2 linked regions of the Homo sapiens genome follow. The protein of the gene in region 1 purifies or fractionates together with the protein of each later gene. This does not show direct contact. Each region holds a gene or a part of one and is shown in the gene's direction. Other genes may lie near its edges.

Evidence for each region.
Region 2: the proteins of CABS1 (region 1) and TRAPPC9 purify together in Homo sapiens (affinity purification with mass spectrometry; 3 studies listed by BioGRID and IntAct, with this or other methods). This does not show direct contact.

Annotation. Positions count from the first base shown.
Region 1 is NC_000004.12:70,332,768-70,336,521, forward strand, and holds the start of CABS1 (calcium-binding and spermatid-specific protein 1), read left to right. Parts: upstream 1-2,213; 5' UTR 2,214-2,272; coding exon 2,273-3,460; 3' UTR 3,461-3,579; intron 3,580-3,754.
Region 2 is NC_000008.11:140,437,119-140,440,872, reverse strand, and holds part of TRAPPC9 (trafficking protein particle complex subunit 9), read left to right. Parts: intron 1-1,675; coding exon 1,676-1,821; intron 1,822-3,754. UniProt on the Homo sapiens protein: Functions as an activator of NF-kappa-B through increased phosphorylation of the IKK complex. May function in neuronal cells differentiation. May play a role in vesicular transport from endoplasmic reticulum to Golgi.

The DNA of each region.
Region 1 (3,754 bases):
TCTTCACAGAATTGGAAAAAACTACTTTAAAGTTCATATGGAACCAAAAAAGAGCCCGCATTGCCAAGTCAATCCTAAGCCAAAAGAACAAAGCTGGAGGCATCACACTACCTGACTTCAAACTATACTACAAGGCTACAGTAACCAAAACAGCATGGTACTGGTACCAAAACAGAGATATAGATCAATGGAACACAACAGAGCCCTCAGAAATAATGCCGCATATCTACAACTATCTGATCTTTGACAAACCTGAGAAAAACAAGCAATGGGGAAAGGATTCCCTATTTAATAAATGGTGCTGGGAAAACTGGCTAGCCATATGTAGAAAGCTGAAACTGGATCCCTTCCTTACACCTTATACAAAAATCAATTCAAGATGGATTAAAGATTTAAACGTTAAACCTAAAACCATAAAAACCCTAGAAGAAAACCTAGGCATTACCATTCAGGACATAGGCGTGGGCAAGGACTTCATGTCCAAAACACCAAAAGCAATGGCAACAAAAGACAAAATTGACAAATGAGATCTAATTAAACTAAAGAGCTTCTGCACAGCAAAAGAAACTACCATCAGAGTGAACAGGCAACCTACAACATGGGAGAAAATTTTCGCATCCTACTCATCTGACAAAGGGCTAATATCCAGAATCTACAATGAACTCAAACAAATTTACAAGAAAAAAACAAACAACCCCATCAAAAAGTGGGCGAAGGACATGAACAGACACTTCTCAAAAGAAGACATTTATGCAGCCAAAAAACACATGAAGAAATGCTCATCATCACTGGCCATCAGAGAAATGCAAATCAAAACCACTATGAGATATCATCTCACACCAGTTAGAATGGCAATCATTAAAAAGTCAGGAAACAACAGGTGCTGGAGAGGATGTGGAGAAATAGGAACACTTTTACACTGTTGGTGGGACTGTAAACTAGTTCAACCATTGTGGAAGTCAGTGTGGCGATTCCTCAGGGATCTAGAACTAGAAATACCATTTGACCCAGCCATCCCATTACTGGGTATATACCCAAATGAGTATAAATCATGCTGCTATAAAGACACATGCACACGTATGTTTATTGCGGCACTATTCACAATAGCAAAGACTTGGAACCAACCCAAATGTCCAACAATGATAGACTGGATTAAGAAAATGTGGCACATATACACCATGGAATACTATGCAGCCATAAAAAATGATGAGTTCATATCCTTTGTAGGGACATGGATGAAATTGGAAACCATCATTCTCAGTAAACTATCGCAAGAACAAAAAACCAAACACCGCATATTCTCACTCATAGATGGGAATTGAACAATGAGATCACATGGACACAGGAAGGGGAATATCACACTCTGGGGACTGTGGTGGGGTTGGGGGAGGGGGGAGGGATAGTATTGGGAGATATACCTAATGCTAGATGACACATTAGTGGGTGCAGCGCACCAGCATGGCACATGTATACATATGTAACTAACCTGCACAATGTGCACATGTACCCTAAAACTTAGAGTATAATAAAAAAAATAAAATAAAATAAAATAAAAATAAATGAAAAAAAAAAAAACAAAAAACAAAAAAAGAAAAAAAAAAAAAAAAGACCCAAACAGGCCAATAACTATTAGTTATTATCTCTACTGAAAAAGTGGGACTTCCTGTTATGAATAAGGGAACTAACTGAATTCCCTGCTACCTAATTACCTTCTGTAGCTATACTTACTGACAAAAACACCATTAATTTTTTTAGATACCAATTTTTTTTAATACTATGAATCTTAAGGGAAAATGGCTTCACCTCAAAAATACTCTGTTACTTGCTTGGAAGATAGACGACTTTAAGCTGATGCTGATAAACTTGTGGCTTCCAAAGTTTTCCTTACTAATTCTAAACCCAAAAGGTGCCTGGCAGTCTCTGCTATGTCTGTTTCAAGTAACCCTAGCTCTATATCAGGAGACATTTTCCTTATAAACAGAAACATGGTAAATCTTAAGTTCCCTGCAATTGAAATGCTTGGCTGTGAATTTGATTTCATAATCAGAGCGGACTCTATAGTCTTTTCATTCAATATTCCTGCAATTAGATAACCAATCGCAGCCTAGAAACAACCTCCAAGGAGACCCAGTGACATTGCTCCCATAGTTGATGCAACAATCACCATGATGACCCAAGCTTTAATCACTCTGATGAACACTGCTCTCCTGCCTAGAGATACCACTGAGTCCAGAAGCAAGACCTGTGAGAGTGCACAGTGCCACTTCGCCCCATGGCTGAAGATGGTTTGCCCAAAATTTATTCTCATCCTCCAACAGAAAGCAGTAAAACACCAACTGCAGCAACCATTTTCTTTGGGGCTGACAATGCTATTCCCAAATCAGAAACAACTATTACTTCAGAAGGAGACCACGTCACTTCAGTAAATGAATATATGCTAGAAAGCGATTTTTCAACAACTACAGACAACAAACTGACAGCTAAAAAGGAAAAACTCAAATCAGAAGATGATATGGGGACCGACTTTATTAAGTCAACAACTCACCTACAGAAAGAAATTACCTCTCTGACTGGCACTACAAACTCCATAACAAGAGACTCTATTACCGAACATTTCATGCCAGTGAAAATTGGGAATATTTCATCACCAGTTACTACTGTTTCTTTAATAGATTTTTCCACTGACATAGCAAAAGAAGATATCCTCTTAGCTACCATTGACACAGGAGATGCAGAGATCTCAATAACCTCTGAAGTCTCTGGCACACTAAAGGACAGCAGTGCTGGTGTTGCTGACGCTCCTGCCTTTCCACGTAAAAAGGATGAAGCTGATATGAGCAATTATAATTCCTCCATCAAATCCAATGTCCCTGCTGATGAGGCTGTCCAGGTCACTGATTCCACTATTCCTGAGGCTGAAATCCCTCCTGCTCCTGAAGAAAGCTTCACTACTATTCCAGACATAACTGCCCTTGAAGAAGAGAAAATAACCGAAATTGACCTAAGTGTTTTAGAAGATGACACCAGTGCTGTGGCTACATTAACTGACTCTGATGAGAAGTTTATCACTGTGTTTGAACTCACTACCTCTGCTGAAAAAGACAAAGATAAACGGGAAGATACTCTGCTAACTGATGAAGAAACTACCGAGGGAGCCAGTATTTGGATGGAGAGAGATACTGCAAATGAAGCAGAGACCCATTCTGTTTTGCTTACTGCTGTTGAATCCAGATATGACTTCGTTGTCCCTGCATCAATAGCTACAAACCTAGTGGAAGAATCATCTACAGAAGAAGATTTGTCTGAAACTGATAATACAGAGACTGTACCTAAGATCACTGAGCCATTTTCTGGAACTACCTCTGTATTAGATACCCCAGACTATAAGGAAGACACCTCCACAACTGAAACGGATATCTTTGAACTACTGAAAGAAGAACCCGATGAGTTCATGATTTAAAAGCAACAAAAGGGATACCATGTAGAATTGTGCAATAGTCTAGCCAGCTAGCCTTAACATCTAAGAAATTTTTCCAACAAGCAAAAACCTTTAGAAATGAAAGAATGTGGGCATTTAAGGCAAGTATTCGACTCAATAAATGCAGATGCTTAGGACTACAGGTCATGTAACAGATTTACGGAAACTTAGAAAAAAAAACCGCAGTGTAAGGGTCCCCCTAGTATCACAAAGTTTCAATATTCTAACAATTACTTAATGTAAAATTTTTCGTCCTAGCCTTCAGGGAGTATGAAG
Region 2 (3,754 bases), on another chromosome or scaffold:
AAAAGAGAGTGGAAGTTGTGAGGCGGATAGAGCCTGAGGTTGGGGGACTTCAGCGTTGCAGCAAGGTTGCCTGTGGAGTGCAAAGCCACAGTGGTAGGAGGGGAAGCCAGAGCCGTGGGAGGGGCTAGCTATGGACTGCATGCCTCTCCCTACGACTGAATTGAGCATCCTGTGAAAGGTTTGCAGTGGGGGAGGGACACAGACTGATTTGTGCTTTGGGAAGGACACTCTGGCTGTGTGTGTATAGAAGCAATGAAGGGGAAGGGGGTGCAGGGTGAGGAGTCAGAGACTAGGCGGAGGCTGCTGAGGTGACTGCTGTTGGGATGGGAAGAGCAGCTCAGATGCCTTTCTTTTCTTTTCTTTTTTTTTTGGGAGTCTCACCCTGTCCCCCAGGCTGGAGTGCAGTGGCATGATCTCGGCTCACTGCAACCTCCGCCTCCCGGGTTCAAGTGATTCTCCTGCCTCAGCCTCCTGAGTAGCTGGGACTACAGGCGCGTGCCACCACGCCCGGCTAATTTTTTGTATTTTTAGTAGAGATGGGGTTTCACCGTGTTAGCCAGGATGGTCTCGATCTCCTGACCTTGTGATCCGCCCGCCTCGGTCTCCCAAAGTGCTGGGATTACAGGCGTGAGCCACTGCACCCTGCTAGATGCTGTATTTTCTTATGGGGAGGGTCTGTTAGCAGGGGCCATCCTGACACTGCCTTGTGGCCAGGAAGGAGACAAACGAAGGCTGGCGTTTCTTTTTCTTTCTGCGTCTGCCTTACGTTGTGATCTTTGTTTAAAACTTATTCAGAATGGAAATGCTAAATTCCAGAGTAACAAAGAGTTTGTTGAACTCGTTAGAGTTACACATGATAGGATTTAACATTGTATTGAGATGTGTCAATAACATTCATTTACTTAGAAACGTCACATCTTCTGGATTTCCAGAGGAGTTTTATTCTTGATAAGTTTGCTTTCTTGATGAGGGAAAGTTTAATCCAGCTGCAGTTTTTCTTTAAAAAAAAAATCATCTATCTTAAGAAATATAACATTTAAAGGTTAGATGTATTTAAAAATGATAAAAGGAATACTTTGGTACAGTTTCTTTGGTTTCTGAGTTGATTAGGGACTCAGAAGCCTTTGCATTATTTAGTGGTATATCCTTGCCAATATTTAAAGAGCTGTTAGTGAGCACCCCAGGCCCTGCTCTCTGGAAGCTTTCCTAAAGCTTGCCCTGAAATAGCGAGGATGAACGTCTTGTTTGCTAAAGCCAAATGGTTGGCTAATAAGACTCAGCATAGCTGTCTTTATAAAATAATAAGAGGTTTGATGTTAAGAAGTGGAAGATAATTGATTTTTTTAAAAAGCTGAAACATAAACTTCCTTATGCTAATGTTACAACTGGAAAATCTAAAAAGAAAAATCCAACTGTAACATTGCCTACGTGAAAGACATGGTAGAAGTCCTTACGTACCGATCACCTTTAAACAAATTGCTTGGCAGTACATTTTTGAAATTAAGACCACTCCAGCTCACATAACTGGCAATGATTATTGCTGACTTAAAATTATAGAGCCTACAGTTGCCTTCTTAGCATTTTTAGTAGTGAGAGAATTGAATAGTGCTTAGTCAGAGTGCTTTCTGGGTGGGAGTTGTATAGTAATAAAGATACATTTTCATGTATTTTCTAGACATTACAAGAAGCGGTGCCAAGGCCGCATGCGGAAGCACGTGGGGGACCTGTGCCTGCAGGCAGGGATGCTGCAGGACTCCCTGGTGCATTACCACATGTCGGTGGAGCTGCTGCGTTCTGTGAATGACTTTCTGTGGCTTGGAGGTAAGATGAGCTGATGAAGATGATCTGATATGTAATTGTTTCAACTGTTAATTAAAATGAGAGGCTGGGTGCGGTGGCTCACGCCTGTAATCCCAGCACTTTGGGAGGCTACGGCAGGCCAAATATGAGGTCAAGAGATTGAGACCATCCTGGCCAACATGGTGAAACCACGTCTCTACTAAAAATACAAAAATTAGCTGGGCGTGGTGGCACGCGCCTATAGTCCCAGCTACTCGGGAGGCGGAGGCAGCAGAATTTCTTGAACCAGGAGGCAGAAGTTGCAGTGAGCAGAGGTTGCACAACTGCACTCCAGCCTGGCAACAGAGCGAGACTCCATCTCAAAAAAAAATAAAATAAAATAAAAAAAGAAATGAGAGGAAACGGCAGAAGAAATTCCCCAAAAAGAAGGGATGAGGGAGGAAAAGCAGCCAGCCTGTGCTGGTTGCCACGAGCAGTGGCCTGGGATGCTTCCCTGCTGTATCTGCTGCCCTCCTCCCACCCTGCCATGCGTCCTCTGAAGGAGGCCCTGCCCACACTTTCCCTTTTCCTCTGTTCTTAGTATACCTTGCCCTCTGCTTTGGATGCCGTTCCCCATGATCTTCACCTCTTAGACTCCTCCCTCAAAACCTCCTCCATGTGTCACATGATGAATGGATAAACGAAATGTGGTATGGGCATACAGCGGAATATTATTCAGCCATGAAAAGGAGTGAAATTGTGATACCACTGCAGCACGGATGAACCTTGACAACTTTGTGCTAAGTGAGAGAAGGCAGGCATGAAAAAGGCCGCAGATTGTATGATTCTATATATATGAAGTGGCTAGAATAGGCAAATCTATAGAAGCAGAAAGTAGACAACTGGTTCTAGGGGCTGGGAGGAGGGGGAATGGGAAGTGACAGTTAACGGGCATAAGGTTTCTTTCTGGGGTGATGAAAATGTTCCAGAGTCAGTTAGTGGTGATGGTTGCACAGTTGTGAATATACTAAAAACTGCTGACTTGCACACTTTAAGTGGGTGAATTATATGGTATGTGAACTCTATGTCAATCTTAAAAATTAAAAGAAAGGGAAGAAGAAATCCTACTTCAAAGCACAGCCATCTCTGATCCCCCGCAGCAGTCGGCAGAGCGGGTGCCCTGCCTGAGATGTTGCTGACACTTCGTGGTGGAATCGGATGTCTGTGTGTGGTCTTCCCTTTGGGGACTGCGCCTCCTGGAGGTGGTCCTGGGAGGATGGACTGGCTGAGTCCATTGTGTGGGTAAGGACTAAAACAGGGTTCTTTCGTTGAGGTTGACAGTTTAGCAAGGACACCTGTCAGCCACTTATGATAATACAAGTCGGAATGAAGTAATGAGGTGAGTTCTGTAACAGAAGTTTAACGAGGTGCCGTAGAACATATTAAATATAACAAATTCTTTCGTTCTTGGGGACGGAGTCTCGCTCTGTTGCCCAGGCTGGAGTGCAGTGGCATGATCTTGGCTCACTGCAATCTCCGCCTCCTGGGTTCAAGCGATTCTCCTGCCTCAGCCTTCCGAGTAGCTGGGACTTACAGGCATGCACTACCACACCCGGCTAAATTTTCTATTTTTAGTAGAGACGGGGTTTTGCGATGTTGGCCGAGCTGCTCTTGAACTCGACCTCAGCTGATATGCCTGCCTTGGCCTCCCAGAGTGCTGGGATTACAGGCATAAGCCACTGTGCCCAGCCAAATATAAGAAATACTTCAAACGGCCAGGCATGGTGGCTCATGCCTGTAATCCCAACACTTCTACAAAAAATAAAAAATAAAAAAATCTTACTTCACCTCACTTCTACAAAACAAAATTAAAAAACATTAACTGGGTGGAGACCAGCCTGAGCAACATAGGGAGACCTCACTTCTACCAAAATAAAATAAAATAAAATAAAATAAAAAGACATTAGCTGGGCTT